Linked DNA regions of Homo sapiens: regions 1, 2 and 4 are each linked to region 3. The links come from fine-mapping of genetic effects on gene expression. A gene starts in region 3. Each other region holds a variant in brackets. All regions are shown on one strand. Distances are from middle to middle.

Region 1 (8,000 bases), 820 kb after region 3:
TGAAGGCCTCAGGAATAATGAGTGAATTCTCCTCACTCATTTCTGCAAGCCATTCTTGAGGCATCCAGCCCTGTGACCCAAATGCCTCCCACTAGGCCTACCTCCAGCATTGGAGATCTCATTTCAACATGAGATTTGGAGGGGACAAGACATCCAAACCATATCTAGAAGTCTTACCTTCTCTTCCGTTATGTTGAAAAAATGTTTGAAGGATTAGCGTTTCTTATTTAAATGCTTGGTAAAGCCCTTCCCTGCCCTGCGCTGCTGGGCCCGTAGGTCTCTGTTGAGCCACAGACGTGGGTCTCTGTTCCATAGGATGGGGTTTGTTAAAATTAAGAATAAGGCCTGCTTTAAGAGATACCAAGTGAAATTTAGACGATGAGGCGAGGGTAAAACTGATCACTATGCTCAGAAACATTTGGTGATACAGGATAAAAATAAACACCACATATCCAAATACAGGATGATAGTTTGTGTAACAAACAGAGATATCATTTGTTAGATTGCTTATGCCCGTATAGAGGGGGATATGATAGTCTGTGTAGCATATGCACACGAACTGCCAAAATATAGTGTGAAGGTTGGCCTGACAAATGACACTGCAGTGTATTGTCCTGGCCTGCTGCTGGCCCGCAGGCTTCTCAATAGGTTTGGCCTGGACAAGATCTAAGAAGGCCAAGTGGAGGTGACTGGCGATGAATACAGTGTGGAGAGCATAGATGGTCAGCTGGGTGCCTTTGTCTACTCTTTGGATGCAGAGCTTGCCAGAACTGCCGCTGGCAATAAAGTTTTTGGTGCCCTAAAGGGAGCTGTGGATGGAGGCTGGTCTGTCCCTCACGGTACCAAACAATTCCCTGGTCATGATTCTGAAAGCAAAGAATTTAATGCAGAAGTACACTGGAAGCACATCATAGGCCAGAATGTTGCAGATTACATGCGTTACTTAATGGAGGAAGATGAAGATGCTTACAAGAAACTCTCTCAATACATAAAGAACAGGGTAGGCCAGGCGCAGGGGCTCACATCTGTAATCTCAGCACTTATGGAGGTCGGGGTAGGGCAATCACTTGAGGTCAGGAGTTCACAATCAGCTGGTCAACATGGTAAAACCTCGTCTCTACTAAAAATACAAATATTAGCTGGATGTGGTGGTGGGTGCCTGTGATCCCAGCTACTTGGGAGGCTGAGGCAGGAGAATCACTTGAACCTGGGAGGTAGAGGTTGCAGTGAGCTGAGATCGCGCCACTGCACTCCAGCCTGAATGACAGAGTGAGACTCCACCAAAAAAAAAAAAGCTTAACTCCAGACATGATGGAGGAGATGTATAAGACAGCTCATGCTGTGGCCGGGCTTGGTGGCTCATGCCTGTAATCCCAGCAGCTCGAGAGGCTGAGGCAGGAGAATCGCTTGAACCTGGGAGGTGGAGGTTGCAGTGAGCCAAGATTGCGCCACGGCACTCCAGCCTGGGTGACAGAGCGAGACTCCATCTCAAAAAAAAAAAAAAAAAAAAAAGAAAGCTCATGCTGCTATACAAGATAATCCAGTCTATGAAAAGAAGCCTAAGAAACAAGTTAAAAAGAAGAGGTGAAAACGTCCCTTGCTCAGAAGAAAGACTGGGTAGTTCAAAAGAAGGCAAGCTTCCTCAGAGCTCAGGAGCAGGCTGCTGAAAGCTAAACCAAACAATTTCTATGAGGATTTTCCAGATAAAGACAATAAGCTTGTTGACAGCAACTAAAAAAAGAGTGTGGTAGAATTCACAAGTGAAGTCGTCCGTCCTTGTGCTTTTCAGTGTGGAAATTTCAAAAATTACTATTTCAATCTGTTTACTTGTTGAGTAAGTCTTTGTAGTTTCCTTCAGTAATTTGTCCATTTAATCGGTTATGTAATTTGTTGGCATAAAATTGTTCATAGCATTCTCTTATCATCCTTTTTATTTCTGTCGGATCTGTAGTGATATCCCATCTTTCATTTTTGATTTTGATAATTTTTTTTTTTTGAGACAGGGTCTTGCTCTGTCACCCAGGCTGGAGTGCATTGGTGCAGTCATAGCTCACTGTAGCCTTAACCTGCAGCCTGGCCCTGAGAAAAGGCCAGCAGGGCAGGAGGGTCACCCAGACAGGTGGACGGGCTGCTGTGCTGGCCTGGTCAGTCGTGCATCTGAAGGGATTTAAGCTGAGGCCATGACATGGCTGGAGGTGAGTTGTAGAAGAGGCCAGCCCAAAGCACTGGCATCCGCACCAAAGCCCCTGTGGACACTGATGTCTGAAATTGGAACTGACTACAGTGGTCAACAGATGCTCTGGGACCCCTACCATAGCCTGGGGGACACACCAGGGACTGGGGCTTCAGCAACAGGAAGAGACCTTCAACCACGGGCTTGTGGTTCATGGGGACTCGGACAGAAGCACACAGTCACTGTGGGGTGAAGGTGGAGGGACACAGCAGGGGCTGGAGAGGGCGGGGCTGTCATTGTGTGGGCATCAGGGCAGGCAACTCTGAGGAGGGGGGCACTGTGCAGGGTCCCCATCATTCACCTGCAGGAAGAGGGGCAGAGCTGGCAGGATTCCAGCCACATGCTGGGCGAGCACGCGTGGGAGGACCTGCTCTGCTGCTACCATCTTGATTTTCTTTATTTTTGCTTTTATTTCCTTAGAGACAAGGTTTTGCTGTGTTGCCCAGGCTGGTCTGTAACTCCTGGGCTCGAGAGAATCCTTCTGCCTCAGCCTCCCAAAGTGGTGGGATTACAGGTATGAACCATGGTGCCTGCATGGGGCCCACAGGTCTGGAGCTGTGCTTTGCTGGGGGCCCCTGTGGGGGACGTGGGAGTCAGGACCCTCCAGCTGTAACAGGAAGGGGCCGGGGGCTGGGGTCATGGCTGGACAGCCCAGTGGAGGTGAAAGTCAAAAGCTGTGGGGAGGGGAGTTAGGACAGCCAGGCCGAGACTCAGAATTCTCTGGAAAGAGGGAAGGTCCCGTGAGTGGGTGGTGTCTGGGTTCTGGGCACTGCACTTGGAGGGGGAACAAGGAAGGGGCAGTGAAGTGGCAGAGGGAGGGCCCCCTGTTACTGGACAGGCAAGACCCCAAACTAGGGCTTAGCCTGGGAGGGTTCTTGGCTTCCCCAAGGGGAATTCAAGGGTGAGCTAGTGGCGTTGGACAGCAGTCTTTCATTGAACGGTACTGCTTCTTGAGGACAGGGCTAACTCCTAGGCAGTGCACCCACAGCCAACAGTGTATGGGTGCTTGGCAGCTATACTTATACCCATGAGAACCCACTTTCAATTACATGCAAATTAAGGATGGGCCAATGCAAATTGAGGGGCAAGTCATTTTAGAATTTTCTAGGAAAAGGGCAGTAGCCTCTGGGTCATTGCCATGAAAAGGGGTGGCACCTTATGGGTTGTTGCCATGGAAAGGGGTGGCACCATATGGGGCGTTGCCATGGAAAGGGGTGGCACCATATGGGTCATTGCCATGGAAAGGGATGGCACCGTATGGGGCGTTGCCATGTAAAGGGGTGGCACCGTATGGGGCGTTGCCATGGAAAGGGGTGGCACCGTATGGGGCGTTGCCATGGAAAGGGGTGGCACC[T/G]TATGGGTCGTTGCCATGGAAAGGGGTGGCACCTTATGGGGCGTTGCCATGGAAAGGGGTGGCACCTTATGGGGCGTTGCCATGGAAAGGGGTGGCACCTTATGGGGCATTGGTAAACTGTCATGGCACTGGTGGGCATGTCTGATGCCAATGAGCAGTGAGGGCAGCCAGGGATCTGCCTCTCATCGTCTGCTGGTTTCTGCTGGTTTTTTCACTTCATCCTGCCTGGACCAGGTCCTGGTTGGGTCAGTGGGGCTGGGACCAGAAAACTAGTCCTGCCAGTCTCTTACCTCACCTGAATGCCAAGGGGAGAAGCTTCTAGAAGGAGGAGGGTCGGTGGGGGGCAGGAGCTGGGCTGGAAAGGGGCTGCAGCGGGGGTGGGGCAGGTTGGGTGAAGGCGGTCGGGGTTGCTGTGTGGGGGACAGGGCATGGGAGGGGGCTTCCCGCGGAGGGCCTGCTGTGGAGGGAAGCAGGAGGGTCTGCTCTGGGAGCAAATGTGAGGCGGCCCCACTCCCGTGTCCGCTCCAGGGACCCTGTCCTCCCAGGGATGGGGAGGTGAGGCTGCCCTGCGATGTGCAGTGGCAGGGGGCTGGGAGCTCACAGAGGAGATGCTGCCGGGCCTGCTGGGAGCCAGGCTGAACTGCAGACAGGCAGGGATGCCGGCAGTGGGGACGCTGGGCTCTGCCGCAGATGCCTCCCCTCCTGCAAGACCCCTCGCAGGGGTGTGGGCTGCGGAGGCTCCCGGCCCCGCCCACCTGTCCGTGCCCTGAGGAGTGGAGGTGAGGGCTGAGCCCTGGAGAACAGGGTTGTTCTGATGATGAGTGATATTTCCAGTGTCCTCTCCTGCGTCCTGCAAGACAGGCTGTGCCCGGCGACTTCCCAAACAAAACACTAAATGCTTGGCATGAGGTGTTGGAGGAGGTGCTGCTGCCTGGCAGCAGATGCTGGCAGGAAGACACTGGGTCTCCGGGCAGAGGCCCAGGACGTGCCCCCAGGAGTCCTTCCCCTCCTGTCCCATGCGATGCTTCTCCGGGCCTTTGACGAGTACTTCAGAACATCTCATCTCATCCCTGCCACTGGGCACAGCTGGGGCCTGGAGAAAGGCACAAACTTATAAGAGGAAAGAGCTGTGAGGAAGGTGATGTTTCAGTGGCTAAACAGCCACTCTTCTCCCAGGAGCCATGCACTGAACCCACGTACACCAGAGGCCCATGGGCAGGTCTGGTCCAGGGAAGCCAAGGACAGGCCACACACATCCACAGCCTGCGGGAGGGTCCTGGCGAGTGTCCCCTGGGACCAATGGCTCCCTCAGGCCACTCTGTCTTGCCAGGGGAGTCAAGAGGTGCCCAGAGGTCAGATTCTCACCAAGGGAGCGCCAGGCAGGCTCTGAGAGCTGCCAGAGGCCAGAACCCATATCCTAACGCATTAGCCGTCTGGCCCTGCCCCATGTGTCTTCAAGGGGACAAGACTGGAGGGCAGAGTGGAGGAGATTCAGGTGTCCAGGCACCTGCTGCCAGGTGGGAAGTGTGATGAGGCCTCTCCCCACACTCCCTGCTTTGTGGAGGAGGCTGAGCGCAGCGGCCCTGGCCCGAGAGAGCCCTTGGGGTGCACGTGCCCCAGCAGGTGCGTCTGTGCAGGAGGCTGAGCGCAGCGGCCCTGGCCCGAGAGAGCCCTTGGAGTGCACGTGCCCCAGCAGGTGGGAGGCCAGCCCCACCCTGGATCACACCTGCCGTCCCTGGCGGTTCTGAGAAATTGCACTGTGAATGATGAGGTTCAGCTGGACTTTCTCCTGATAGATTCCTGCAAGTTAATTGAAAATAAAATGCACAAGCTTTTCTTTTAATGAGAAAAGGCAGATGTAGCTGGAACTAATCAGTGGGGGGCTGGGGCAAACTCAGAGACTGTGGAAGGAAAATAGAAGTTTGAAGGCATTTGAAAAACACGGCAATTCTCCCCAAACAGTGCCACGGTGATGCATTAATATCCTGAGTTCCGAGTTGTTGCTCCCGAGGCGATGACGACCCGTTACCCGGCACAATTCCCAGTTCCACTGTCGTTATCTCTTAATTAAATCACATTACTGTGGGTTTGCTGTCACAGTTTTACTGATGGTCCCTAGGAAGCTGCTTGGAGAGCCAGGAGCTGCAGCGTTCGGGGGCTGGCCTGGGCCTGAGGTCCACGAACCACGGCCCCTGGGCCCCTTCCAGCTCTGCTCCCCACCCGCACCCATCACTCTGCTCTTGGGGTGGTCCTGGCCCTGGCTACATCCCTCCTTCCTTCCCATGGACGTTCTTAGAAATGGGCTTGGCTGGCCGGGCGCGGTGGCTCACACCTGTCATCCCAGCACTTTGGGAGGCTGAGGCAGGTGGATCACTTGAGGCCAGGAGTTCGAGATTAGCCTGGCCGACATGGTGAAAACCCACCTCTACTAAAGATACAAAAATTAGCTGGGTGTGCTGACGCATGTCTGTAATCCCAGCTACTGGGAGGCTAAGGTACGAGAATCGCTTGAACCAGGGAGATGGAGGTTGCAGTGAGCTGAGATTACGCCACTGTTCTCCAGCCTGGGCCTGGGCGGCAGAGCAAGACTCTGTCTCAAAAAAAAAAAAAAAAAAAAAGAGGAAAGGGCCTGGCCACAGTTCGGCAGCAGCTCTCGATGCTGAGGGTGTCAGTGGCTGGTCCTCAGGCGTCTGGCCGTGACCTTCAGCCGCGTTATTCTCTGCACTCAGCCGAAAGACCCCCCCCGAGGTCTCGTGATTAGAACTCCCTGAGCCCTGGAGACCTGCTGTGGGAACCCGTTGTGTTAGCGTCTGTCCTTGTGTAACAAGGTCACCACAAATCTTGCAGCTCAAAACGACACACATCTGTCATCTCAGTCTCTGTGGCCAGCGGTCTGGCGCCACTTCGTGGGGTCCTCTGCTGGGCCCACAGGCTGCCATCAGGTGGCGGCTGGGCTGGAGGCTGAGCTGGGGCAGAGTTCACCTCCACGCTCACTCAGGGTGCTGGCAACCATCCGTCCTTCCAACTGTAGGACTGACGGCTTCATTTTCTCACTGGCTTTTGTCCAGAGGCTGCACTCTGGTGCTAGAGGCCACCGAAGGTCCCAGGTACGTGGTGTTGCCCAGCACGGCTGCTGTGTTCCCGCAGCAAAGGAGACAGCGGCTCCAGCAAGGCAGGGTCACAATCGTGCGTGGTGTGGTCGTGCACACACACTTAGCCACGGACACTCTATCGCTTTGATCCTATGATGTGGCTTAGGAGCAAGAAACAGGTCCCGGCAACACCCAAGGGGAGGGGACCAGGAAGGGGCACAAACCCCCGAGCTGGGAGCGCCGACAGGTGAGGGGCACAGGCTCCAAGTGCATGCTGGGGATAAGAAAGGCCGAGGTACCCACGCTGGGTTTGCAGAACAAGCCCGAACCCCACCCCCTCCTCTGTCCAGTCTGAACCACACCCCTCCTCTGTCCAGGCTGAACCCCACCCCCTCCTCTGTCCAGCCTAAACCACACCCCTCCTCTGTCTAGCCTGAACCCCACCCCTCCTCTTTCCAACCCTGCCCCCTGTGAAGTTTCCTCAGCTTTTGCTTTTGTTATCGTGGGCATCCAGGCCCTTTCTGTTCAGTGTCCTCCTTCCCACACCCACTCCCCCTCTGTCTTCCTCAACATCCATCCCTTTGTCATTGAGAATCCAGACAGCGGCTGTTTCTAACCTCTTTCCAGGGTCAGAGTAGCCCTGGTGTGTGCCTGGCTGGGCTCCAGGCCTGCGCCTCCCGGGTTCTGGGGGGGCTCTGGGATGTGGTCCTGCCAGCGGCCTCTGACAGGGGACGTGGGGCACCATGTGCAACCCCTCTCCTCCCTGGAGCAGCTTTTCTGGCCCAGAGGCTGGGAAACATCTTCCCCTCAGGGTTTGGTCTTCATTCTTCTTGTTCCCGCTGAGAAACCACAGCCAGGTGGGCGCTGGAGGGAGCTGAGGGGCACCTGCCTTCCCGTCTCCTCTGCTCCTCCCAGGGTCACCTGCCCACTCGGCCGCAGGCTTGGCCTGGGCCTGGAGTGCACGGGCCATGTGTGGCCTGGGACTGGCACGCACGGGCCATGTGTGGCCTGAGACACGGTGTGATCACTTTCTGTATGATTTACTTCTGGAGCCCTGATCCTTGACTGATGATCAATGTGAGGTCCTTGCAAGTAAATTCTACCTGTCAGGCTAGATGCCAAAACATGTAGCATTCACAGAAAAGAAAAGTCTGGGCCGGGCACGGTGGCTCACACCTGTGATCCCAGAGCTTTGGGAGGCCGAGGTGGGCGGATCACAAGGTCAGGAGATTGATACCATCCTGGCTAACACAGTGAAACCCCGTCTCTACTGAAAATACAAAAACAAAATTAGCCGGGCCTGGTGGTGGTCGCCTGTAGT
Region 2 (8,000 bases), 55 kb after region 3:
CCTGGATAACACGGCAAAACCCCATCTCTACAAAATAGTTCGCTGCGTGTGGTGGTGCACGCATGTGGTTCCAGCTACTCAGGAGGCTGAGGCAGGAGGATCACTTGAGCCTGGGAGGTCTAGGCTGCAGTGAGCCGGGACGATGCCACTGCACTCCAGCCTGGGCAACAGAGTGAGACCCTGTCCCAGCACTCTGGGAGGCAGAGGAGCCCAGTTGGAGATCAGCCTGGGTAATATAGTGAAACTTGATCTCTACAAAAAAAAGAAGAAAAAAAAAAGCCGCGTGTGGTGGTGCGCACCTGTAGTCCCAGCTACTGGGAAGCTGAGGTGGGAGGATCACTTAAGCCCAGGAGGCAGAGGTCACAATGAGCCGAAATTGTGCCAACTGCACTCCAGCCTGGGCAACAGAGGAAGACTCTTCACAGAAAAAAAAAAAAAAAAAAAAAAAGCTGCTAAGTCATTTACCATAAGTCACTGAGAACAGGGGATGTCTGACCAGATGCAAGTGCTGCTGGACCAGGCGGGCTGCTGTATCGTGGGTCAGAGTGAGCAGCTGGTTCCTGCGGACGGAATCCTATATGCAGCCAGAGATGTGACAGCCACCGTGGACAGCCTGCCACTCATCACAGGTGACCTGACTCCATGGCCTGCTTCTGCATGTTCACAGGCTCCTGACCTCCAAACTCAAGTCAAGGGCCTCTCGTTAGGAGTTACCCGTCACCTGACCGTGTGCCCCCCTACCCCCATCACAAGATGCCTGACCACCACCATGTGGGGTGGCCTGATACTCAACCCACCAGGTGCTGCCACCCCCATAATAAGGGACTTGACCCTCAATGCTCAGGGCCCCTGACCCCAAAGTCGGCATCCCCGAACTCTCCCAAGAAGCTCCAGGTTCTCCATTGTCTCCAACCTCCTCTGCCTCCCCCAAAGCCTCCATTCTCAGTAAGAAACTCGTGGAGGGGCTGTCCGCTCTGGTGGTGGACGTTAAGTTCGGAGGGGCCGCCGTCTTCCCCAACCAGGAGCAGGCCCGGGAGCTGGCAAAGACGCTGGTGAGCGGTGTGGCCTTTCCCTGGGCAAGCGTCTTGATGCGGGCCCAGCCTACCCTTCACCCCTCCCGTCCCCACTGCCTCCCTCCACTCAGCAGTCCTGCCTAACCCCAGTCCCACCCTCTTCTGCCCGAAGTCCCTCCCTCCTTCACGGCTTCCTAACCTGCTGTGACTTTAGAGGTCAAGGCTGGCCCGGCCTGGACCTGGGGAAGCCCTCTGTGGCGTTCCTGCCCCAGACCAAGTACAAGTTCCTCCTGGCCCCATGGCGAGGTGTCGCACTTCACTCGTGTCTCTTCCCCACCCCAATCCTTCCCTGACTTCATGCTGGGGGGCTGGCAACCCAGGGTGCAGCAGGGGCTGGAGTTCGACCAAGAACCGGCTGCAGAAGGCCCCGCCATGGGGGGTCCACGCTGAGCCTCCTCTCCGCAGGTTGGCGTGGGAGCCAGCCTAGGGCTTCGGGTCGCGGCAGCGCTGACCGCCATGGACAAGCCCCTGGGTCGCTGCGTGGGCCACGCCCTGGAGGTGGAGGAGGCGCTGCTCTGCATGGACGGCGCAGGCCCGCCAGACTTAAGGGACCTGGTCACCACGCTCGGTGAGGGGGACGGGGTGTAGGGGAGCGGAGGCGGCGGGGGGTGCTTCCCGCTGGGGCCGCCCCGACCCGGCCGCGCCTAAGACCCGTCCCCGCCCGCAGGGGGCGCCCTGCTCTGGCTCAGCGGACACGCGGGGACTCAGGCCCAGGGCGCTGCCCGGGTGGCCGCGGCGCTGGACGACGGCTCGGCCCTTGGCCGCTTCGAGCGGATGCTGGCGGCGCAGGGCGTGGATCCCGGTCTGGCCCGAGCCCTGTGCTCGGGAAGTCCCGCAGAACGCCGGCAGCTGCTGCCTCGCGCCCGGGAGCAGGAGGAGCTGCTGGCGCCCGCAGATGGTGAGCGTCGGGGGAGTCCCCGTCCTTCCGCCTCCGCCATCCCCTTCCCTTCCCGAGGCCCCGCCCCTTCCCGAGCCCGCGCCTCTCAGCCCCTCTCCCCGCAGGCACCGTGGAGCTGGTCCGGGCGCTGCCGCTGGCGCTGGTGCTGCACGAGCTCGGGGCCGGGCGCAGCCGCGCTGGGGAGCCGCTCCGCCTGGGGGTGGGCGCAGAGCTGCTGGTCGACGTGGGTCAGAGGCTGCGCCGTGGTGAGCGCCGCCCCCGCCCTGCTGGCCCCGCACCCCCGCCCAGCTCCGGCCGCGCGGCCTCTAACAGCCCCTCGCTCTGCAGGGACCCCCTGGCTCCGCGTGCACCGGGACGGCCCCGCGCTCAGCGGCCCGCAGAGCCGCGCCCTGCAGGAGGCGCTCGTACTCTCCGACCGCGCGCCATTCGCCGCCCCCTCGCCCTTCGCAGAGCTCGTTCTGCCGCCGCAGCAATAAAGCTCCTTTGCCGCGAAACCTTGTCAGTGCTTGGGCGGGAGCGGAAGGATCCAGGGCTGCGGAGGCGGGGGCCGTCTCGATGAACACGTGACCCCCGGCGGGCTCCGCCTTCCGCGCACGCGCTGAGAGCCTGTCAGCGGCTGCGCCCGTGTGCGCATGCGCAGCTCCGGGGACGCCTGCGCCCTGCCTGTGAGCGTGTGGCGCCCGCTTTCCCTGAGCCGGCGGGGCAGAGCGCAGGGAGCTGGAGGTCGGCGCTTCCTCTCGTGCTTGGTCCACTGACGCGCGGCCCCGCCGCGAGGTGCGGACGCCGGGGCTGGGAGGGGAGGAGGTAGCCCTGAGGACTCGCTGGACTCCGGGGTAGTTTCCCAGCTCCGGCTACTGCGCGGGGCTGGCGGGGCACACCCCAGGGCGCGCTGGAGGCCGGAGCGAGGCTGGGGCGCCCGTGGGAGGCTCCCAGCAGGCACCGGTGTTCTCGCGGCCAAGCACAGTTATAACGCGCTCGCGCGGCGCTTCGAGTGGTCCTGGAACCTTTCTGGCCACGAGGGCGCTGGCCTTGCTGGGGAGGGCACAAACCCAGAACCGCCCGGGCGGGGGTGCAGTGAGTCCTCGGGAGGGTGCCCTCAGCAGGAGGG[G/A]GCAGTGACCGGGAGTCCTGAGACCTCCACCTAGCAAACCTTCTGCGGGGGCCCGTGGGAAAGGCTCAAAGGTCACCAACGCAAAGGCAGGGCGTCGGCTGTGAGCCCGGAGGAGCTGCTGGGAAGCCTGGATGTGAGGAGGGTGGGGTTTTGTGGCGGGTGGAAGTGTCGTGCGTCTCTGCCAGGAGAGGTTAAACACAGCCGGCGGGCAGAGTCTGAGCTCCGGGGGTAGGTCGTGCAGGTTTTCTGCTGGGAGTGTGGAGGAAGGCCGCGGTTGGTTGAAGTGGCTGGAGGTAACAGGAAAGTGTTGGAGGAATCGGTTGCTCTCGGGGATTGCAAGCCAGAGAGTTACCCACCTCCTTTTAAGAAATGGGTTTATTGCAAATAGATAACGTGGTTAGTTCAGGCAAGGCATGCACTTGGAATGCTTTCCGTCAGCAAGAGGTTCACCTTGCTGAGGTGCAGGTGCAGGGCAGGGTGCGGTGACAGGCTGGTGATCCCAGGTAGAGGACAGGAGTGACAGGTGTGGTTGCCCAGGTGTGGATGTTTGGTGGAGGTGGAGTTCTGAGCTCAGGTGAGCAGCTGCAAATGCCTGTTAAGCCTGAACGTGGGCTGGGTCCTTCAGATGGGTGGCTGGTCTCAAGTCGCAGGGGCAGCCCAGGCACTGTCCTGGGCCTTCCCTTCTGGCTCCTGACGCCTGTGCTTGTTTCCAGGAGCATCAGATCCATGCTGCTGCTGACTCGGAGCCCCACAGCTTGGCACAGGCTCTCTCAGCTCAAGCCTCGGGTCCTCCCTGGGACCCTGGGAGGCCAGGCCCTGCATCTGAGGTCCTGGCTTTTGTCAAGGCAGGGCCCTGCAGAGACAGGTGGGCAGGGCCAGCCCCAGGGCCCTGGGCTTCGAACCCGGCTGCTGATCACAGGCCTGTTCGGGGCTGGACTCGGTGGGGCCTGGCTGGCCCTGAGGGCTGAGAAGGAGAGGCTGCAGCAGCAAAAGCGAACAGAAGCCCTGCGCCAGGCAGCTGTGGGCCAGGGCGACTTCCACCTGCTGGATCACAGAGGCCGGGCTCGCTGCAAGGCTGACTTCCGGGGCCAGTGGGTGCTGATGTACTTTGGCTTCACTCACTGCCCTGACATCTGCCCAGACGAGCTGGAGAAGCTGGTGCAGGTGGTGCGGCAGCTGGAAGCAGAGCCTGGTTTGCCTCCAGTGCAGCCTGTCTTCATCACTGTGGACCCCGAGCGGGACGACGTTGAAGCCATGGCCCGCTACGTCCAGGACTTCCACCCAAGACTGTTGGGTCTGACCGGCTCCACCAAACAGGTTGCCCAGGCTAGTCACAGTTACCGCGTGTACTACAATGCAGGCCCCAAGGATGAGGACCAGGACTACATCGTGGACCACTCCATTGCCATCTACCTGCTCAACCCTGACGGCCTCTTCACGGATTACTACGGCCGGAGCAGATCGGCTGAGCAGATCTCAGACAGTGTGCGGCGGCACATGGCGGCTTTCCGCAGTGTCCTGTCTTGAGCCACTGCAGTCTGGGCCCCATCATTAAACGGGCTGCGTTTAATCTGTGTGTGTGTGTGATCTGTACCAGCGGCCCAGGGAGGCCAGGCAGCCCTCTTCTCTGCGCAGGTGTACATAAAAGGGTTTTTAGGGGGAAGATGAGATGGCAACACTGCTTTATTAGGCCGGGCCAGCCAGGAGCAGACACACGGCTCCTCAGTACACATTCCCCCACCCCTGCCTCGGTGCTCCCCACTCAGGGCTGGGCCATGGAGGGGGCAGCGTAGGTCTGGAAGCGCTTGTGCGCTCGCTGGTGCGTGAGCAGTCTCAGGGACATGGTGTCCACGGCCATCTCCAGCCCGGGCTGCTGGGTTATCTCCACTGTGTAGTCATTGGCCTGCAGGGGTGGCACATCAGCAGGGTCTGGGGACCGTCTCCCCCTCCCACGTATCCCAGGCTACTCACCAGCTGCAGGGAGGCCAGCATGGAACGACACACCTCGAAGGCCGGCTGGCCAGCCACCAGCTCCGCAAAGGGACACCACTCATTGAGCTGGGGGAACCGTGAGACCAGCTGGTCCCCATAGGTGTGGATGTCAAAGGGCACATGCTGCTCCTGCACAGGGGAGGGGCATGTTGGCTGCGGAGAGAGGCAAGGCCCTGGACAGACCCGTGGCACACAGCTCTGGTTCCCAGCGGCCCCGCCTCACCTGCTCCTGGAGCAGAGGCTGCACTGTGTCCTCCCAGTCCCTGATGCGCTGGCTCAGCTCTGTCTCCTGGACAAACTTCTGGGAGGTGGCGATGAAGAGCTCCTAGGGGAGGATCAGCAGGAGCTACTGCCTCCCAAGCAGGGGCCTGGGCACCGCTCACCTGTCCCCCTCCCCTCCCCGTCTCCCTCTAACCCAGGCCTACCACATTCCTTCGAACCAGCTCCTCGTAGCTCAGGGACATCGGCACTGCGTCTGGGAAGGGGTAGCTGTGAGCTGGGCAGCTAAGGGGCCACGCTCTCCCCTGCCCCCAGCTCCAGTGGCCCCTCAGCACTCCTAGCCCGCTGCCCACCTACCAAGGTCAGCGGCTTCCCTGGGGTCTGCTCCCTCGGGCTCCATGTACTCCTCAGGCTCTAGAAAGTCATCTGCTGGGAGGTGGGAGAGTGAACAGCACGCAGGCAGCTAGTCGGCAGGTGCCAAGCCCCACCCCACCCCCTGGCAGGCACCCACCTGCTGCCCCCAGGTCTTCCAGGGAATCCTCCAGGTGGTCCTCCTCTGCAGGCCGCAGCCACTGCTCAGCCACCTGTCCAGAGAAAGCATCTGTGAGGGGCACTGTCACCTCCCATCAGGGCCACCACGGGGTCCTAGATCACAGCTGACCAGCTGGGACTTGCCTCCCTCCTCTGCAGCTTCCGGAGAGTTTCCAACTGCTCCTTCACGTGTGTCCAGTACAGGACCTCCATGTCTGCAGACAAAGGCCTTGTGAGGGCTCCCTCGTCCTTCCCAGGCCCCGTGCCAGTCCACCCAAGGCTTTGGGTGACACCAGGTGGGGGAAGAGGTAGGGGAAGGAGAGTAAAACTGTCTTCCCCGAGGACTTCAGCCTCACCTGCAAAGGACGGACCCTTTCGCCGAAGCCGCCTGCTGTCGGCATGGTCTGCATCTGTGAAAGAACATGCTCAGCACCAGCCAGGCCAAGAGCTGCCCACAGCATTGGGAAAAGGGTGCTGATCCTCCTCCACTGGCCCTGGCCCAGCCCCCAGCTCCCAGTGGTCCGGAGTGCACACCACACCCACTCACAGGCAGCCAGGTACCACTGGTGGAAGTCCTGCAGCTTGGCAGCGCCCTTCCTCTTGCGCTTCTGTCCCAGAGCCTCCTCCACACAGGGGGGCACAGAGTAAGGCCTACCTGGGGGCAAACAGGGACTGTCTTAGAGCCGCTGGGGGATCAGGGTGCAAAGCCCACTCCCACCCCCCCACCTCATGCCCCAGGAAACCCAGCCAGGGGTACCTGAGTGGAGGTACCTTCCACCCAATTACCTTTCTTGAAGGGCTTAGACTCCAAGGAGTCAAAGGGGTCCAGGCTCTGCCAGGGGTCTGGAGTCTCCTGGGCACAGAGCACAAGAAGGCGCTGGAGAAGTAGGGGGTGCACAGCCGTCCCTCCCAAAGGAGTAGGGGATGCACAGCCACCCTCCCAAAGGAAGAGTAGGGGGTACACAGCCGCGCTCCCAAAGGAGGAGTAGGGGGTGCACAGCCACCCTCCCAAAGGAGGAGTAGGGGGTTCACAGCCACCCTCCCAAAGGAGTAGGGGGTACACAGCCACCCTCCCAGAGGAGTAGGGGGTGCACAGCCGCCTTCCCAAAGCCCAGGCAACAAGTGCAGTGACAGCCTGGGGCAGAGCCGACCACACTCAAATCCTGGATCACAGAGGGGAACACTAGAGAGAGGGTGGGAGCCCAGAGTCGCATGAGGGGGTCTTTAAGAGAGCAAGTGCAAAGGGCCACAGGCTGGGAACACCACAGGCCAGCAGGAGCAAGAGCATGATGGGCAGGCAGCCAGTCCTCGAATCCGCCCATCCCTCCCTGCCGGGGGTCAGGGCCCCAACACTCCTACCTTCACGCAGGATGCAGGCTCTGGGGCCCCCTCCCGCTCCCGCAGCATGTACCTCCTGGGCAGGGCAGCACTCTGCAAAGACAGTCACAGGGTCCCCACTTCTCCTCTTTCTCCCCTCAAGGCTCTGGGTACCCCAGGAACTCCACCTTGGGTTAACATCAAGAACCCTACAAGGGTCGGGCGTGGTGGCTCATGCCTGTAATCCCAGCACTTTGGGAGGCCAAGGCGGGCAGATCACCCGAGGTCAAGAGTTTGAGACCAGCCTGGCCAACATGGTGAAACCCCCGCCTCTACTAAAAATGCAAAAAAAATTAGCCGGGTGTGGTGGCGCACACCTGTAATCCCACCTACTCGGGAGGCCGAGGCAGGAGAATCGCTTGAACCCAGGAGGCAGAGGTTGCAGTGAGCCGATATCACACCACTGCACTCCAGCCTGGGCAAAAGAACAAGACTCCGTCCAAAAAAAAAAAAAAAACCTACAGGGACCGGACACAGTGGCTCACGCCTATAATCCCAGTGCTTTGAGAGGCCAAGGCGGGTAGATCACTTGAGCCCAGGAGTTCAAGACCAGCCTGGGCAATGCAGTGAGACCCCGTCTCTACAAAAAATACAAAAATTAGCCGGGTGTGGTGGTACACGCCTGTAGTCCCAGCTACTCGGGAGGCTGAGGTGGAAGGATCACCTGAGCCTAGAGAGAGTCAAGGCTGCAATGAGCCAAGATCAGGCCACTGCACTCTAGCCTGGGCAACAGAGCAAGACCCTGTCTCAAAAATAAATAAATAAAATAAGATAAAAATAAACCCTGCTAGTACTCTCTGGG
Region 3 (8,000 bases):
GCCCCGCCGCCCCGCCGGCTCCCACGGGGCAGAGACGCAGCTCCTCTCCGGTCTTCCCGTACGCTACCGCGCCCGGGCAGTTCCTCGCCCGCGCACGCGCCGCTCCGCCAACTGATTGGCCTCCGGCGCCTCGGATTGGCCCAGGCCGTCCAACAGCAGCCCCGCCCAGAGAGAGACCATTGGTCCTTGCCCATAGGGGCGGGGCCCGGCAGAGATCTGCGGAATTCGGCCTTCGGAAAGAGCCCCCGGGCCGGGGCACGGAGAGAGCCGAGCGCCGCAGCCGTGAGCCGAATAGAGCCGGAGAGACCCGAGTATGACCGGAGAAGCCCAGGCCGGCCGGAAGAGGAGCCGAGCGCGGCCGGAAGGAACCGAGCCCGTCCGAAGGGAGCGGAGCGCAGCCTGGCCTGGGGCCCGGTCGAGCCCGCGCCATGGCGGCCGAGGCGACAGCTGTGGCCGGAAGCGGGGCTGTTGGCGGCTGCCTGGCCAAAGACGGCTTGCAGCAGTCTAAGTGCCCGGACACTACCCCAAAACGGCGGCGCGCCTCGTCGCTGTCGCGTGACGCCGAGCGCCGAGCCTACCAATGGTGCCGGGAGTACTTGGGCGGGGCCTGGCGCCGAGTGCAGCCCGAGGAGCTGAGGGTTTACCCCGTGAGGTGGGAGGTCAGGGGTCAGCCTCTCCGGTGCGCGGATCGGGGTCAGGGGTCAGCCGCGGGGCCCTCAGGATGCTCCATGTTTTCGCCCCCCTCTTGCGCCCGCGCCTGGGGCGGGGCGGGGCCGGCCTGGCCGGGAGGGGGCCGGGGCCGCGGCAGGTAGGGCCGGCCGCGGGCTGAGCGCGCCTGGTGTGGGTCTGCAGCGGAGGCCTCAGCAACCTGCTCTTCCGCTGCTCGCTCCCGGACCACCTGCCCAGCGTTGGCGAGGAGCCCCGGGAGGTGCTTCTGCGGCTGTACGGAGCCATCTTGCAGGTGAGGGGGGTGTGAGCGCCGCAGCACCAGTGGCTTTAGGGCCTGTCGCTTACGCGATGCGGGTAGTATTGTTCCCGTTGCGCAGTTGAGGACACCGAGGTTCACGGTCTGAGTAACACCTCATTACACCGAAGCCTGGGCCTGTATTCCCAGAGCTTTGGGAGGCTGAGGCGAGAGGATCACTTGAGCACAGGAGTTCGAGACCAGCCTGGACAACATAGTGAGACCCCCATCTCTAAATAAAAATAGACCAACGCTAAAGCCTGTGCTCCAGAGCCTCCAGGCAATTGGATCAGAAGTCGCAGCTCTGGTGGGAGGAAGGCGAGCCCTCATGTGTGTCCCTGTGCCACTTTGCCTTGGCCCCTTTGCTGTCCATCCTTTTTCAGGGCGTGGACTCCCTGGTGCTAGAAAGCGTGATGTTCGCCATACTTGCGGAGCGGTCGCTGGGGCCCCAGCTGTACGGAGTCTTCCCAGAGGGCCGGCTGGAACAGTACATCCCAGTACGGGCCCAGTCCTACCCTCTCCTCCCCAAGGCACCTCCACCCCCTAACCCTACCCCAGTGCCCAATGTCTGCCTCCACATCCCTCACCCCAAGTAGGGAATTTCCCCCAAAACCCTGACTTCCCCTCATTGCCCCAGCCCTTCCCACTCCTGCCCCAGCCCCATCACCACCCTGATAGCTTCCTGGGTGCAGAGTCGGCCATTGAAAACTCAAGAGCTTCGAGAGCCAGTGTTGTCAGCAGCCATTGCCACGAAGATGGCGCAATTTCATGGCATGGAGATGCCTTTCACCAAGGAGCCCCACTGGCTGTTTGGGACCATGGAGCGGTGAGTCAGGAGCCTCCTCAGGGCTCCTGTACTCCTGAGCTGAACCTCCATGCCAGCGGATGTGTCGGGGGCTCTATCCAGCCCTCCACTTGAGTGGATCTGATGTCATGGGCTGTCACAGAACAGGCTTTTAAATGCTTGCCAGAGGCCACATGCAGTGCCTCATGCCTGTAATCCCAGAACTTTGGGAGCCGAGGTGGGTGAGGTGGGAGGATCACTTGAGCCCAGGAGGCGGAGGTTGCAGTGAGCTGAGCTCATGCCATTGCACTTCAGCCTGGGTGAGAGCAAGACTCTGTCTCAAAACACCAAACAAAAAAAGAAAAAAGAAATGATTGCCAAGGCCAGGCACGGTGGCTCATGCCTGTAATCCTAGCACTTCGGGAGGCTGAGGTGAGCAGATTGCCTGAGCTCAGGAGTTCAAAACCAGCCTGGACAACACAGTGAAACCCTGTCTCTATTAAAATACAAAAAAATTAGCCAGGCATGGCAGCATGCACCTGTAGTCCCAGCTACTCGGGAGGCTGAGGCAGGAGAATTGCTTGAACCCGGGAGGCAGAGGTTGCAGTGAGCCAAGATCGCGCCACTGCACTCCAGCCTGGGTGACAGAGCAAGACTCCATTTCAAAAGAAAAAAAGAAATGATTGCCGGACAAGTCACACAGTGATAGGAGCAGGGGTGCAGTAGTCTGGCCTGAGGGGTAGATAGGCGAGGGGTGGGAAAGAATAGCAGAGCCAGTGTATCCTATTCTTTGGGCTTCAGGTACCTAAAACAGATCCAGGACCTGCCCCCAACTGGCCTCCCTGAGATGAACCTGCTGGAGATGTACAGCCTGAAGGATGAGATGGGCAACCTCAGGTGAGGGCAGGCAGGACAAGGCTAATGGTAATGGTGTCCGCCCTTCCAGTAGTTGCTGAGGGCTGGTGTCAGGGCCTGGCCTGTTAGGGTGGCTCTGATCCTCCTCTAGTCACTCCTGCTCAGGACCCATGCTCCCATACCCCTGTAGGAAGTTACTAGAGTCTACCCCATCGCCAGTCGTCTTCTGCCACAATGACATCCAGGAAGGTAGGAGAAGGCATCTGAGTCTCCTAACCCAAGATGGAAGAGCCAGAGGGCTCTGGAGTGAGCAGAACCTCACCCCATTCCCCCAGGGAACATCTTGCTGCTCTCAGAGCCAGAAAATGCTGACAGCCTCATGCTGGTGGACTTCGAGTACAGCAGTTATAACTATAGGTGAGGCTGGAAAGATGGCTTCCCATAGATCTGTTCCCATAGGGCTCTTGAAAACAGGCCAGCTGCCCAGGGCATTTGGGGACTGAATGTCCACCTTATTCTCCCAGGGGCTTTGACATTGGGAACCATTTTTGTGAGTGGGTTTATGATTATACTCACGAGGAATGGCCTTTCTACAAAGCAAGGCCCACAGACTACCCCACTCAAGAACAGCAGGTATGTGGGCCAGAGGCTGGGGAGCAGGACCCATCCTGTGAGGAAGGAGGGAGGTGGAGTCTGGAAGGAATGGCCGGAAAGGATGTTACCTGGGAAATACTCCACAGTCTCCCCAATTCCTGACTCTTGGCCATTGATCGTAGTTGCATTTTATTCGTCATTACCTGGCAGAGGCAAAGAAAGGTGAGACCCTCTCCCAAGAGGAGCAGAGAAAACTGGAAGAAGATTTGCTGGTAGAAGTCAGTCGGTGAGGAAGGAGGGGCAGGGTGGGGTAGGGCAGAGCAGAGGAAAGAGGGATTGGGGAAGAGGCAGATTTATCAAGCTGCAGGGAAGGTGGCTGTGGAGAGTGGAGTTAGGACAGTGGGGGAGAAGTTAAAACTGTAGGGATTGGCCAACCTGGGTGAGGGGATCCAAGCAGTGCTAGACATGCTCTTGAATGCCCCTCCTTTTCCTGCCCTCCCCCCAGGTATGCTCTGGCATCCCATTTCTTCTGGGGTCTGTGGTCCATCCTCCAGGCATCCATGTCCACCATAGAATTTGGTTACTTGGTAAGTGACCCTGGGGATGGGAATGCTAGCTGGGGGGCTGGGGAGCAGCAGCAGCCACACTCTTCCAGGAGGCCTGGGGAGTCCCGGGTGGCTGTGGGCAGCCTGAGGTGGATGTAGAATGCTGGTCCCACGTCTTCTCACCACTGTGTGGGGTGGGTTTCCTTCCCTAGGACTATGCCCAGTCTCGGTTCCAGTTCTACTTCCAGCAGAAGGGGCAGCTGACCAGTGTCCACTCCTCATCCTGACTCCACCCTCCCACTCCTTGGATTTCTCCTGGAGCCTCCAGGGCAGGACCTTGGAGGGAGGAACAACGAGCAGAAGGCCCTGGCGACTGGGCTGAGCCCCCAAGTGAAACTGAGGTTCAGGAGACCGGCCTGTTCCTGAGTTTGAGTAGGTCCCCATGGCTGGCAGGCCAGAGCCCCGTGCTGTGTATGTAACACAATAAACAAGCTTCTTCTTCCCACCCTGTCCTGGCCCTGCTGAGCAGCAGCAGAAAGTACCAAACCGAGCAGTACACACAAAGGGACTCTTCAGTGCTCTGGGATTGAAAGTGGTTAGCGTTCATGCTGCCAGTTGGGGTCCCCCATCCCTCCCCAGTCCCCTGGCTGCAGCTTAGAATAATAAATACTAGGACTTGGGGAGGAGGAGAGTGATGGGGGTATGAAGACGACCCTGAGGTGGGGATGCCGCCCGGAGCACCAGCGATCCCAGAACAGGCAGCAGCTGACACATCGGTGACCTTTTCCCTACATTTGGCTATTTTTAGCTCTAAAGCCACCATCCTCACGAGACTCTGGGGCCCCCCAGGCTCCCAGACCTTTGAGCAACCTTCACCGCACAGAAACCCAGCCGCGCCCTGCAATTCCCACCGCGGAAGGTGGGTGGGTTCTGGTTCTCGCCCCACGTTTTTCCCCGACCCCGATTTGGGAGTAGGTGTCAGGTTCCTGGTGAGGGCGGGGCGGGGGTGGCTAGGCCTGAAGGACGTGGGGACACGGGCCAGAGTGGCTGGCCCCACGCACGGACAGGAGTGAACCCGAGCTGTGAGTAGGGGCCGGCACAGGGCGGCCCGCGGGGGTCTGGGCCCTCAGCCCTGCACAGGGGCGAGGACGGCGCTGGGGCCCGCGCGCTCGGGTGGGGAAGGGCGGGCTCCCGAACCCTGCCTCTGTCCAGGCCGGCTCCACTTCCAGGGGCGCCTCTCTCCCCTGCCCGCGCCCTCGCTGACGCCCCCCAACTCCAGGCTGCCCTTCGCCGTCCTTGGGGCTCCTGGAGCTTTCAAGGCCCAAATCCCCTGCACCACAGTGGCTGTGCCCACCCGGAAGGCTGGCGCGAGGATTTGGCGGCGGTTGGCCTGGCGGGGGGCGCGGGCCGGGGGCAGCCGCTAGTCGCGGGGTGGGGGGCGCGAGGGGTCGCGGACTGGCTGGGGGCGTCTCGGCGCGGCTGGCGGCGGGGCCGGCCTAAGCGCGCCCGCGCACCCATCTGCCCCCGTCCTAGGTGCCGACCAACCCCCAGGATGGCGGAAGCTCACCAGGCCGTGGCCTTCCAGTTCACGGTGACCCCAGACGGGGTCGACTTCCGGCTCAGTCGGGAGGCCCTGAAACACGTCTACCTGTCTGGGATCAACTCCTGGAAGAAACGCCTGATCCGCATCAAGGTGCGCACAGGTGCTTCTCCCAGAGCGTAGGCAGAGGCCGGCTGTCAGCTGTTAAGCGCTTTGTTAGGGTCCCTCACTGCCTCCTTGGCTGGCACTTCTGCCCGGTACAGGTTGTGGAAGTACAGACACCAGAGGGGTGCACAGGATGTGGTCGGACACAGGGAGCTGTGGGTGTGGCGGAGGAAGGAGCACAGCAGGGCATCAGGAGAGAAAGCCTTCCAGGCCAAGACCAGGAGCCAGTTCCCAAGACTTCACAGGCAGGCTAACCTCCCGCCTTCCGGCTCCATAAGGGCGCCTGTTTCTGCCCACAGAATGGCATCCTCAGGGGCGTGTACCCTGGCAGCCCCACCAGCTGGCTGGTCGTCATCATGGCAACAGTGGGTTCCTCCTTCTGCAACGTGGACATCTCCTTGGGGCTGGTCAGTTGCATCCAGAGATGCCTCCCTCAGGGGTAAGGAGTGAAACTGGAAGGGCACAGGTGCCACCAGGGAGGGCTGGGCCCAGCTCCCAAGGCTGAGGTTCCTGAGCTGGGCAGATACAGGACAGCAGCCATTGGCAGTCACGGGGCAGCCCTCCCCTATGACAACCATTGTCTTAGCCCTACATCCGCTCATTTGATGCAGTCAGACATGAGTGTGCCCAGGGAGGTTCTTCCCCTTGGTGTCTCCCCTGAGACAGTTCACAGCCACCCGAGGCTGGCCTCAAGAGGACCCCCTGCAGCCCTTGCCCCTCTCCAATAGGTGTGGCCCCTACCAGACCCCGCAGACCCGGGCACTTCTCAGCATGGCCATCTTCTCCACGGGCGTCTGGGTGACGGGCATCTTCTTCTTCCGCCAAACCCTGAAGCTGCTTCTCTGCTACCATGGGTGGATGTTTGAGATGCATGGCAAGACCAGCAACTTGACCAGGATCTGGGCTGTGAGCAGCAGCCAGTGGAGGGGTTCAGGCACCTGGGTTGAGACTCTTTGGACTCCTTTGGGGTTCTGAGCTAGACGGGAGAGGCAGACAGGGCACTGGTGCCTGGTGTGTGGTTTGTCCTGGAGGGGCTGGGATGGCTCTGAGGGTCTCAGGGAGTTGCTGGTTGGTTTCCATTTTTTCCACTGGCTCCCACCCCAGCACTCTGCTCTGTACCCCCAGATGTGTATCCGCCTTCTATCCAGCCGGCACCCTATGCTCTACAGCTTCCAGACATCTCTGCCCAAGCTTCCTGTGCCCAGGGTGTCAGCCACAATTCAGCGGGTGAGGGCCTCGCTTGGGCATCCCAGTGGGCAGGGGAGGTTGGATTCAGGAGATGTTTCCAAATATAAGGTTCTGTGCAAAGAGTGGCCTTAAGGGCTTGAGAATAATGGGGCTGGGTGAGGAGGGAGAGGTGGGAAGAGGATTAAGATAGAGGCAGCCCTTGCCATCTGGCCCCACGGTGATGATAACTGGCTGGACAGTACCTAGAGTCTGTGCGCCCCTTGTTGGATGATGAGGAATATTACCGCATGGAGTTGCTGGCCAAAGAATTCCAGGACAAGACTGCCCCCAGGCTGCAGAAATACCTGGTGCTCAAGTCATGGTGGGCAAGTAACTATGTAAGTTCCTGCCCCTGGGCTCACTGTCACCTGCCATGTGTCCTGGCTGCACCCGCCCCAGCTCTAACCTTCCACCTCCCCACAGGTGAGTGACTGGTGGGAAGAGTACATCTACCTTCGAGGCAGGAGCCCTCTCATGGTGAACAGCAACTATTATGTCATGGTATGAACTAGAGCCCCCAGGTCCCCGCACGTGCTCAGCTCTGTCCCAGCTCCAAGGCAAGGGATCTGGAGGACAGCCCAGAGCTCTAGTAGCAGCTTCCGTGGGCAAGTGGGGGTTATGGAGTGAGGCCTGAGGGAAAGGGAAGAGAGAGAGGAGATCCTAGAAGAGTCCAGAAGCAGCTTAGGGGCAATGGGGATCCTAAGGATGAGGAGAGTGGAGACCGCCAGCCTGCCACCGCTTCTCAGAGTCCCGGGGTCACTGCCCCTGCCCAGCTCGGGCTCTGTCACCTCTTTCCTTGGTTTCCTCACTGGCCTCCTGGCCATGGGTTCCCAGCTGTCCTGACACCATAACCAGGGAATTGTCTAGAACGTGTCTTGCTTTGTGTCCCTCTGCAGAGCCGGACAGCAGAATGGAGGCCAGGCTGCTGCTTTTAGAGCTCAGGAAGTCAGTCTGCCTCTGCCCCATGTAACTGGCCCTTCTGAGTCTCTGGGTCTCCCAGCCACCTGGGCTGTATGGCATGCCTCTTCTCTCCTTTCCCACGGTCCAAAGCACACTTGACTTGCCAGAGCCTACTGGAATTCTCCTCCATAAGCTGTCCTTCCAGGAACTTACACACAACTTGCCCATAGCAGAGGTTTTAAACTGCTTTTTAGTGGTAGAACCCCTTTATCAAAGCAAAAGAAGTAGAATATAAGCACATAAAATAGCTTATAAAAAGGCAGCTCGGGCCGGGTGCAGTGGCTCACGCCTGTAATCCCAGCACTTTGGGAGGCCGAGGCAGGTGGATCACAAGGTCAGGAGATCGAGAGCATCCTAACACGGTGA
Region 4 (8,000 bases), 25 kb after region 3:
ACCTTCATGAGGTTACAAGTTCCCTGGCAGCTCTTACATTATTTATCTATTTCTCTCTTTTCTTACTAGTGCCTTGTAGATAAATAGGTGAGCATCAAATATTAACAGAATGAATTAATGTATATTAATAAAGGTGAGGAGAGGATCTGGAGTGATGTAATTACTGTTCAACATTTTAAATAACAACGGATATGATTTATTAAGTGCTCATTACGGTAGGTACTGTGCTGAACAGTATATAATTTATTTCAATTAATCCTCACAAAACTCCACAAGATATAGGTAATACTAATAATTCCCGTTTAAAAAATACAAAACTTGGCTGGGTGTGGTGGCTCACATCTGTAATCTCAGCACTTTGGGAGGCCGAGGTGGATAGATCACCTGAGGTCAGGAGTTTGAGACCAGCCTGGCCAACATGGAGAAACCCCATCTCTACTAAAAATACAAAATTAGCCGGGCGTGGTGGCACTTGCCTGTAATCCCAGCTACTCAGGAGGCTGAGGCAGGAGAATCACTTGAACCCAGGAAGCAGAGGTTGTGGTGAGCCGAGATCGTGCCACTGTGCTCCAGCCTGGGCAACAAGAGCAAAACTTCGTCTCAAAAAAAAAAAAAAAACTCAAAAAAATTACCAAAAATTTGTCGAGAAGATGTGTAAGTTGCCAAAAGTAACACTGCTGATATGAGGTAGCGCCAAGATTTGAACCCAGGCAGCTCAATTCCAGAACCAGGACAGTCTCTATGGGGCACTGCCTCTAATGCCCAGGAGAATTCTTCTGGAAAGTTAAGTTGATTATAATTTTTTTTAATGTATGAATCATTTCATATTTTAAAATTAAACGTACCCGCCTCCAGGCTCCCATCGCTTGATGTCTGTAATTATTACATTAACTGCTTCGACATCTGTCACATCCTGGTTTGTCATATGGTGTGTGTGACTTACTCCCATATTGCACTAGAAATTCCTTAGGTACAGGAATTGTATCTTTGAAACACATCAGCACAATAGCTTGCATCTTAGTGGGTACTCAATATGGTTTTGCAAGAAAAAATTCCATGTCACCATTATGACAGACTTTTTTCATTATAATGAAGATGTTTTCTGTGTTAATGACTCCAGCCTTCAGCTACGTTTGTATGGCAAAGATGGAAGAAAGGGGAAGGACAACTTATATGTGCCGAATGCTATGCTGGGGCCTTTAGACATGTTCCCATTTAACCTTCACAACAGCCCTGTGGAGTACGTGGTATTGTCTGAATCTGAGAGATGGGGAAAGAATTCCTTAGAGAAATCACTGAGTTATAACCAGTGGAGCTGGATTTGAAATGTAGGTCTGTCTGACTGCAGCTTCTTTCTGTGCATTGCCTAGATGGATGATGCTGACCCTGAGGAAAGAAACTATGACAACATGCTGAAAATGCTGTCAGATCTGAATAAGGACTTGGAAAAGCTATTAGAAGAGATGGAGAAAATCTCAGGTAGGATGTGTGAACCCAAAAGTATCTGAGACAGGTCTCAATCAATTTAGAAAGTTTATTTTGCCAAGGTTAAAGATGCACCTGTGACACAGCCTCAGGAGGTCCTCAGGACATATGTTCAAGGTTGGCAGGGTACAGCTTGCTTTTATACATTTTAGGGAGAGAGAATACATCAGTCAGTACCTGTAAGATGTACACTGGTTCGGCCGGGCGCGGTGGCTCACTCCTGTAATCCCAGCACTTTGGGAGGCCGAGACGGGTGGATCACGAGGTCAGGAGATCGAGACCATCCTGGCTAACACAGTAAAACCTCGTCTCTACTAAAAATACAAAAAATTAGCTGGGTGTGGTGGCAGGCACCTGTAGTCCCAGCTACTCGGGAGGCTGAGGCAGGAGAATGGCATGAACCCGGGAGGTGGAGCTTGCAGTGAGCCGAGATGGTGCCACTGCACTCCAGCCTGGGCGACAGAGTGAGACTCTGTCTCAAAAAAAAAAAAAAAAAAGATGTACATTGGTTCGATCTGGAAAGGTGGGACAACTCAAAGGGGGATGATTCCAGGTTATAGATAGATTTAAATTTTTTCTGATTGGCAATTGGTTGAAAGAGTTATGGTCTAAAGACCTGGAATCAATAGAAAGGAATGTCTGGGTTATGACGGTAAGGGGTTGTGGAGACCAGAGTTTTATCATGCAGATGAAGCCTCCGGGTAGCAGGCTTCAGAGGGAATAGATTGTAAAAAGCTTTCTTATCAAACTTAAGGTCTGTGTTCATGTTAATGCTAGTCACCTTTTCCTGAATTCCAAAAGAGAGGCAGGTATAACGAGGCATACCCAATTTCTCCTTCTCCTCACGGCTTGAACCAACTTTGGCCAAGCAATACACCCACCTTGGCCTCCCAAAGTGTTGGGATTACAGGTATGAGCCAGCGTGCCTGGCCAAATAGCTTTTATTCACTAGAGCAGACTTTAGAAAATTTCTCCTTAGAAATGTTTGCAATTTTTTGCCTATGTACTTTTGAACTATGAATAGCTGAGACACGTATCAGTTAATTTAGAGAGTTTATTTTGCCAAGTTTGGGGACACTTATCTGTGACACAGCCTCAGGGGGTCCTAATGACATGTGCCCAAGGTGGTCAGAGCACAGCTTGGTTTTATTTATTTATTTATTTATTTTAAGACAGAGTCTCGCTCTGTCGCCCAGGCTGGAGTACAGTGGCGTGATCTCGGCTCACTGCAAGCTCCGCCTCCCGGGTTCATGCCATTCTCCTGCCTCAGCCTCCCGAGTAGCTGGGACTACAGGCGCCCGCCACCACGCCTGGCTAATTTTTTGTATTTTTAGTAGAGACGGGGTTTCACTGTGTTAGCCAGGATGGTCTTGATCTCCTGACCTCGTGATCCGCCCGTCTCGGCCTCCCAAAGTGCTGGGATTACAGGCGTAAACCACCGCGCCTGGCCTTGTATTTTTAATAGAGACAGGGTTTCACCATGTTGGCCAGGATAGTCTTGATCTCCTGACCTTGTGATCTGCCCGCCTCAGCCTCCCAAAGTCCTGGGATTACAGGTGTGAGCCACCGCGCCTGGCCTTTTTTTTTTTTTTTTTTTGAGACGGAGTCTTGCTCTGTCGTCCAGGCTTGAATGCAATGATGTGATCTCAGCTCACTGCAACCTCCGCCTCTCGGGTTCAAGTGATTCCCCTGCCTCAGCCTCCTGGGTAGGTGGGATTACAGGCGCCTGCCACCATGCCCAGCTAATTTTTGTATTTTTAGTAGAGACGAAGTTTCACCATTTTGGCCAGGCTGGTCTCAAACTCCTAACCTCAGGTGATCCACCTGCCTTGGCCTCCTGAAGTGCTGGGATTACA[C/A]GCGTGAGCCACCACGCCCAGCCAGCAAACAGTTTTATGTAGTGAAAAATCTATCAATATTTTCCTTTCTGATTTATTGCCATTATTTTGACACCTAGAAAGTCTTTCCTCAATCTGAGATCAGTGAAATATTTAGTTGTATTTTCTTCTACTTTTCTCCGTATTCCTTTTTAACATTTAATCCTAACCCATCTGGCATGCCAAATGACCTACGCTGCGTATTGCTTTTTTTTTTTTTTTGAGACAGAGTCGCGCTCTGTTGCCCAGGCTGGAGTGCAGTGGCACAATCTCGGCTCACTGCAAGCTCTGCCTCCCGGGTTCACGCCATTCTCCTGCCTCAGCCTCCCGAGTAGCTGGGACTACAGGTGCCCGCCACCATGCATGGCTAATTTTTTTTGTATTTTTAGTAGAGATGGAGTTTCCCCGTGTTAGCCAGGATGGTCTCAATCTCTTGACCTCATAATCTGCCTGCCTTGGCCTCCCGAAGTGCTGGGATTACAGGAATGAGCCACCGCACCCAGCCGCATATTGCATTTTTATATAAATCTGCTACAGGCTGGGCACGGTGGCTCACACCTGTAAACCCAGCACTTTGGGAAGCCGAGGCAGGAGGATCACAAGGTCAGGAGTTTGAGACCAGCCTGGGCAATATGGTGAAACTCCATCTCTAATAAAAATACAAAAATTAGCTGGGCGTGTTGGTGGATGCCTGGAATCCCAGCTACTCAGGAGGCTGAGGCAGGAGAATCACTTGAACCCAGGAGACGGAACTTGCAGTGAGCCGAGATCATACCATTGCACTGCAGCCTGGGTGACGGAGCGAGACTCTCTCTTCTGTGATAGTCCCTGGGCATAGAGGGAGGGTGTTTGTATCGTTTTAGCAGCAGGGCATTTGCAGTGTAACAGATCCGGGCCCAGTGCGATGCCAAATGAGGGAGATTCATATCTTTGGTCATCTGCAGAATACCATGATTTTAGTTTCCTTGGAAGCAAAATGAGGGGAGATAAGTTTGACAATTATAAGAGTAATTTGTGCATTAGAACAGAAAAAGGAACCTATTCCATTAGGGCACCAACGAAAAATATGAGGAAAAGTTACAATCTGGTCCTCTCTAGAGGATTATTGTAGCCAAGAAACAATGATTTAATTTGCACTCAAAAAAACGTTATGGCTGGGCGCAGTGGCCTGTAATCCCAGCACTTTGGGATTTTATTTATTTATTTATTTATTTTGAGACAGGGTCATACTCTGTCACCCAAACTGGAGTGCAGTAGTGCAATCTTGGCTCACTGCAACCTCCACCTCCCAGGCTCAAGGGATCCTTTTTTTCATCTCAGCCTCCTGAGTAGTTGCAACTACAGGTGCACACCACCATGCCCAGCTAAATTTTGTATTTTCTGTAAAGACAGGGTTTCAACATGTTGCCCAGTCTGATCTCAAACTTCTGAGCTCAAGTGATCCACCCACCTCAGCCTCCCAAAGTGCTGGGATTATAGGTACCAGCCACCTTGCCCGGCCAGCCACCTTCTTGTATCCTCACATAGAGCCTCACATATCCTTGCATAGAGTGAGAGTGAGCTCTTGTGTCTCTTCTTTAAGGGGTGCTAATCCCATTCAGGAGGGTCTACCCTTAGGACCTAATCATCTCCAAAAGACCCGACCTCCTAATACCATCACGTCGGGGGTTAGGATTTCAACAGGTGAATGTGGGAGGGACACATTCAGTCCATAACATGTGTGCCAGGCAGTTTACATATATCACCCATTTAATTCTCACAGTAAGCCATGAGATTGGTAGGGTCTCCAAAGATGAGGAGACTGAGATTTATGTATATATAACCTCCACCTTCTGGGTTCAAGCGATTCTCCTGCCTCAGCCTCTCTAGTAGCTGGGACTACAGGCACCCACCACCACACCCGGCTAATTTTTATATTTTTAGTAGAGATGGGCCAGGAACACTGGCCATGTTGGCCAGGATGGTCTCAATCTCTTGATCTCGTGATCTACCCCCCTTGGCCTCCCAAAGTGCTGGGATTACAGGCGTGAGCCACCGCACCCGGCCGAGATTGATACATTGCAGACACTTGTTCCAGGTCACAGAGTCGTCAGGTGGGGAGCTGGGAGGCGTACTCTGCTCTGGCCCCAGGTCCCTGCTGCACCTGCTGTCCAGGTAGTCTGCGGCCTCCCTGCACCGGAACGATCTGGGATGCTTGTGAGGATTCCACAAAGAGGAATTTTAAGGGGATGTGTTTGCTATGTACAGTTGGTTGTCATGCAGAGGGGAGATGACCTTTGTTCTGTATAGTTGCAGAGGGCTGAACCACACCAGCCGGTGGACTATGCAGAGAAAAAGTTGGAGGTGGGATTTCTGCACACACTTCTTTGAGTTCACACAAGAAGCATGTGTTCACCTATAGGCCCAGGGAATGCTACCTTCGAGTTGCTGTCAGAGGGAAAGAGCAAGAGAGCCCATCAGTGCATTGGTAGATGGTCAAGGACACCTTCCCAAGAGGAGAAGCCCCAGGCCTGGGCCTCAACGAAAGCATAGAGGTGCCCAGGTGGAGGTGGGCAGGCATCCCAGGCCACTGAACATAAGGTGACATGAGGTTTGGGTCTTGCAGGACTGGAAACAATCAACTCTACCTGAGTGTGTGAGCTTGGGTGGATGACTCCTTAGGGGTCACCTGCAGCCATTGGCTGTGAACTGCTTGTAGGTAAGGAGCTGCGGTTTGCTCTAATTCTCCTCACATTTCGTATCAGACCAGCCTCTAGTTTTTTACATCATGTCTGGTGTATCCAGAAGTTATGCCTTGCATGAGACTAGGAAGCGTCACTATGGATGTTTGTAGGGAGTTTTTATGAGCCTGTAACAAGTAGCCTACCAGCTGTCTCTCCCTAGAGTAATTGGGTGCCTCAGCAGGATCTGGGCCTCCAGATGCTGAGCCCAGCTGGAGGCATCTGACCCTTCTGGGGCACCCCAGAGCTGCAGCCCCTCCCTGTGGCCTGACCAGTCCTGTCTGCTTGTTGCAGTGCAGGCGACCTGGATGGCCTATGACATGGTGGTGATGCGCACCAACCCTACGCTGGCCGAGTCCATGCGTCGGCTGGAGGATGCCTTCGTCAACTGCAAGGAGGAGATGGAGAAGAACTGGCAAGAGCTGCTGCATGAGACCAAGCAAAGGCTGTAGGCCCCACTGGCCCACCACAGCTGCCATGCCACCCTCTGCCCGTATGAAGAGGTCACTGGGGGATGGAGCTGGCACCCACATGAATAGCTGTATGCACTGTACTTGTTTCTTAATAAACTTATTTTTAAGCACAGCCCGAGGACCTCTTCTCTCCTGTGCCATGATCCACCCAGCTGCATATCAAACCTTGTGAACAAAACACAACAAGTGCAAGCTGCAGGTGCTTTCGGTGAATTAAAATGTATTTGGTGCCAGTGGTGCTGAACATAGAATAAAAAACAGAAAAAGGGCCCAGACAGGGACATCCAGGCTGGAGGTTGGAGTGGAGCACAGTCAGATGTATTCACTTTTCTAGCATGGGTTTCAAAGTGCGTAAGGGGAGAAAACGCATCATGGATTGTGCTGTGCATCCTGGACACCGTGCGAGGTGCTCATAGCTGTGATCTTGTCTCCCACAACTCTCTTGGGTGACAGACGTCCACTGTCCACATTTTATAGACAAGGAGAAAGGGAAGTCAAATGTCTCGTCCAAGTCTACACAGCTAAAAAGGGGCAGAACTAGGGTGACGCTCAGGCCTCATTTAGAGATCGGGGGTTGGCGAGAAGTGGGGTGGGCTTCTGGAGGGGCTGGGAGAGCCCCACAAGGCTGCAGAGGGTGGTGAGCCCGGAGTGGGCCTGGCCTGGTGTGGGCTGGGGGTATGGGCAGGAGCTGCAGACAGCAGGGCTGCACCAGCGGACCAGTTTCAGAGGCAAGGGTTCTAGGCCCTTGAGAATCCACAGTGCCAAACAGACCCAGATAGCTACGGGGTTGGTACCTGGGGAGGCCTTAGGACAGGCAGAAAGTCCCAGAGGCGAGGGCGTTGCCTGGGGACGTTTTTGCTCCCTGTCCTGCTGACAGAGCATAGGAAGTGTGAATGTTTTCTACCCCCTCCTCTCTCGGCTCAGCAGAGCTCCAGCGAGCCAAGTCCTTGTCTGTGGAGACGCATCAGTCCCTGGCTCTAGGGAATAGGGAGTCCCACAGACAGGGGGGTGTCAGCAAGCTGAGAGGGTCTGTAAGTAGGTACGGAATTGAGTCAGGAAACAGTCTGGGTGTGGAGTGAGGGGCAGAAAGAGGCTGAGGGAGTCTGGGCTTCAAAATAATCGACAACCTTTAAAGCAGAAGGGGAAAGTTGTCCAGAAACAAGAGCAGGAAGTTCCGATCCCAGCCCCTTCCCTGAGCCCCGGCCTCTCAGGCCCATCCCAGGAGGGTCTCCCTGGAGAGCAGCGAAGCAGCTTTGGTTCTCTGCCTGCCACTCAGAGTGAGGTCTGCAGCCGGTCCTCAGGGGGCAGAGTCAGGATGAATGGACTGAGGACCCCGGTGCTCCCCAAGGGGAAGGGCTGCAGCTCCTTGGCCTGGAACTGGGCAGTCCCCCCAGAGACCGTGAAGGTGGCAGTGACCTGGGGGTTGAGGCAGTAAATGGTGTTGCCCA

Evidence for each region.
Region 1: its variant is fine-mapped to the expression of CPT1B in naive CD4 T cells (Schmiedel 2018, PIP 0.95).
Region 2: its variant is fine-mapped to the expression of CPT1B in whole blood (TOPMed, PIP 0.98).
Region 4: its variant is fine-mapped to the expression of CPT1B in thyroid (GTEx, PIP 0.97).

Annotation. Positions count from the first base shown.
Region 1 is chr22:49,751,297-49,759,296 of GRCh38, reverse strand. It overlaps the pseudogene RPL5P35. Among named protein-coding and RNA genes, the nearest start is that of BRD1, 73 kb to the left of the region's middle. The variant T/G (reference allele first, on the strand shown) is at 3,588.
Region 2 is chr22:50,520,217-50,528,216 of GRCh38, reverse strand. It overlaps NCAPH2 (non-SMC condensin II complex subunit H2), which reads right to left. Exons shown (of 20, transcript NM_152299.4): 10 at 7,181-7,252; 11 at 6,608-6,674; 12 at 6,369-6,476; 13 at 6,178-6,231; 14 at 5,966-6,036; 15 at 5,802-5,874; 16 at 5,648-5,716; 17 at 5,497-5,546; 18 at 5,295-5,396; 19 at 5,051-5,200; 20 at 3,437-4,982. The coding sequence ends at 4,842. It overlaps SCO2 (synthesis of cytochrome C oxidase 2), which reads left to right and starts at 2,619. Exons shown (of 2, transcript NM_005138.3): 1 at 2,619-2,745; 2 at 3,793-4,649. The coding sequence starts at 3,806. The coding sequence ends at 4,606. It overlaps TYMP (thymidine phosphorylase), which reads left to right. Exons shown (of 10, transcript NM_001953.5): 5 at 500-629; 6 at 934-1,052; 7 at 1,479-1,641; 8 at 1,741-1,971; 9 at 2,076-2,216; 10 at 2,299-2,465. The coding sequence ends at 2,447. RefSeq lists enhancers at 678-827, 848-1,047, 838-1,409, 1,218-1,517 and silencers at 1,608-2,437, 2,648-2,947. The variant G/A (reference allele first, on the strand shown) is at 3,080.
Region 3 is chr22:50,575,210-50,583,209 of GRCh38, reverse strand. CPT1B (carnitine palmitoyltransferase 1B) reads left to right here and starts at 4,783. Exons shown (of 20, transcript NM_152246.3): 1 at 4,783-4,824; 2 at 5,276-5,435; 3 at 5,747-5,886; 4 at 6,176-6,353; 5 at 6,573-6,674; 6 at 6,875-7,012; 7 at 7,098-7,175. The coding sequence starts at 5,295. It overlaps CHKB (choline kinase beta), which reads left to right and starts at 361. Exons shown (of 11, transcript NM_005198.5): 1 at 361-652; 2 at 853-961; 3 at 1,348-1,461; 4 at 1,657-1,790; 5 at 2,550-2,645; 6 at 2,794-2,852; 7 at 2,939-3,020; 8 at 3,128-3,236; 9 at 3,380-3,483; 10 at 3,703-3,784; 11 at 3,955-4,247. The coding sequence starts at 429. The coding sequence ends at 4,029. It overlaps CHKB-CPT1B (CHKB-CPT1B readthrough (NMD candidate)), which reads left to right and starts at 211. Exons shown (of 30, transcript NR_027928.2): 1 at 211-652; 2 at 853-961; 3 at 1,348-1,461; 4 at 1,657-1,790; 5 at 2,550-2,645; 6 at 2,794-2,852; 7 at 2,939-3,020; 8 at 3,128-3,236; 9 at 3,380-3,483; 10 at 3,703-3,784; 11 at 3,955-4,174; 12 at 5,276-5,435; 13 at 5,747-5,886; 14 at 6,176-6,353; 3 more. CHKB-DT (CHKB divergent transcript) reads right to left here and starts at 184. Exons shown (of 4, transcript NR_110536.1): 1 at 1-184. RefSeq lists silencers at 1-214, 245-334, 665-864, 4,752-4,871, 5,212-5,291 and 1 more and an enhancer at 6,776-7,070.
Region 4 is chr22:50,549,776-50,557,775 of GRCh38, reverse strand. KLHDC7B (kelch domain containing 7B) reads right to left here. Exons shown (of 1, transcript NM_138433.5): 1 at 6,753-8,000. The coding sequence ends at 7,825. It overlaps SYCE3 (synaptonemal complex central element protein 3), which reads left to right. Exons shown (of 3, transcript NM_001123225.3): 2 at 1,371-1,479; 3 at 6,374-6,664. The coding sequence starts at 1,371. The coding sequence ends at 6,531. Among named protein-coding and RNA genes, the nearest start is that of KLHDC7B-DT, 4.8 kb to the right of the region's middle. The variant C/A (reference allele first, on the strand shown) is at 3,342.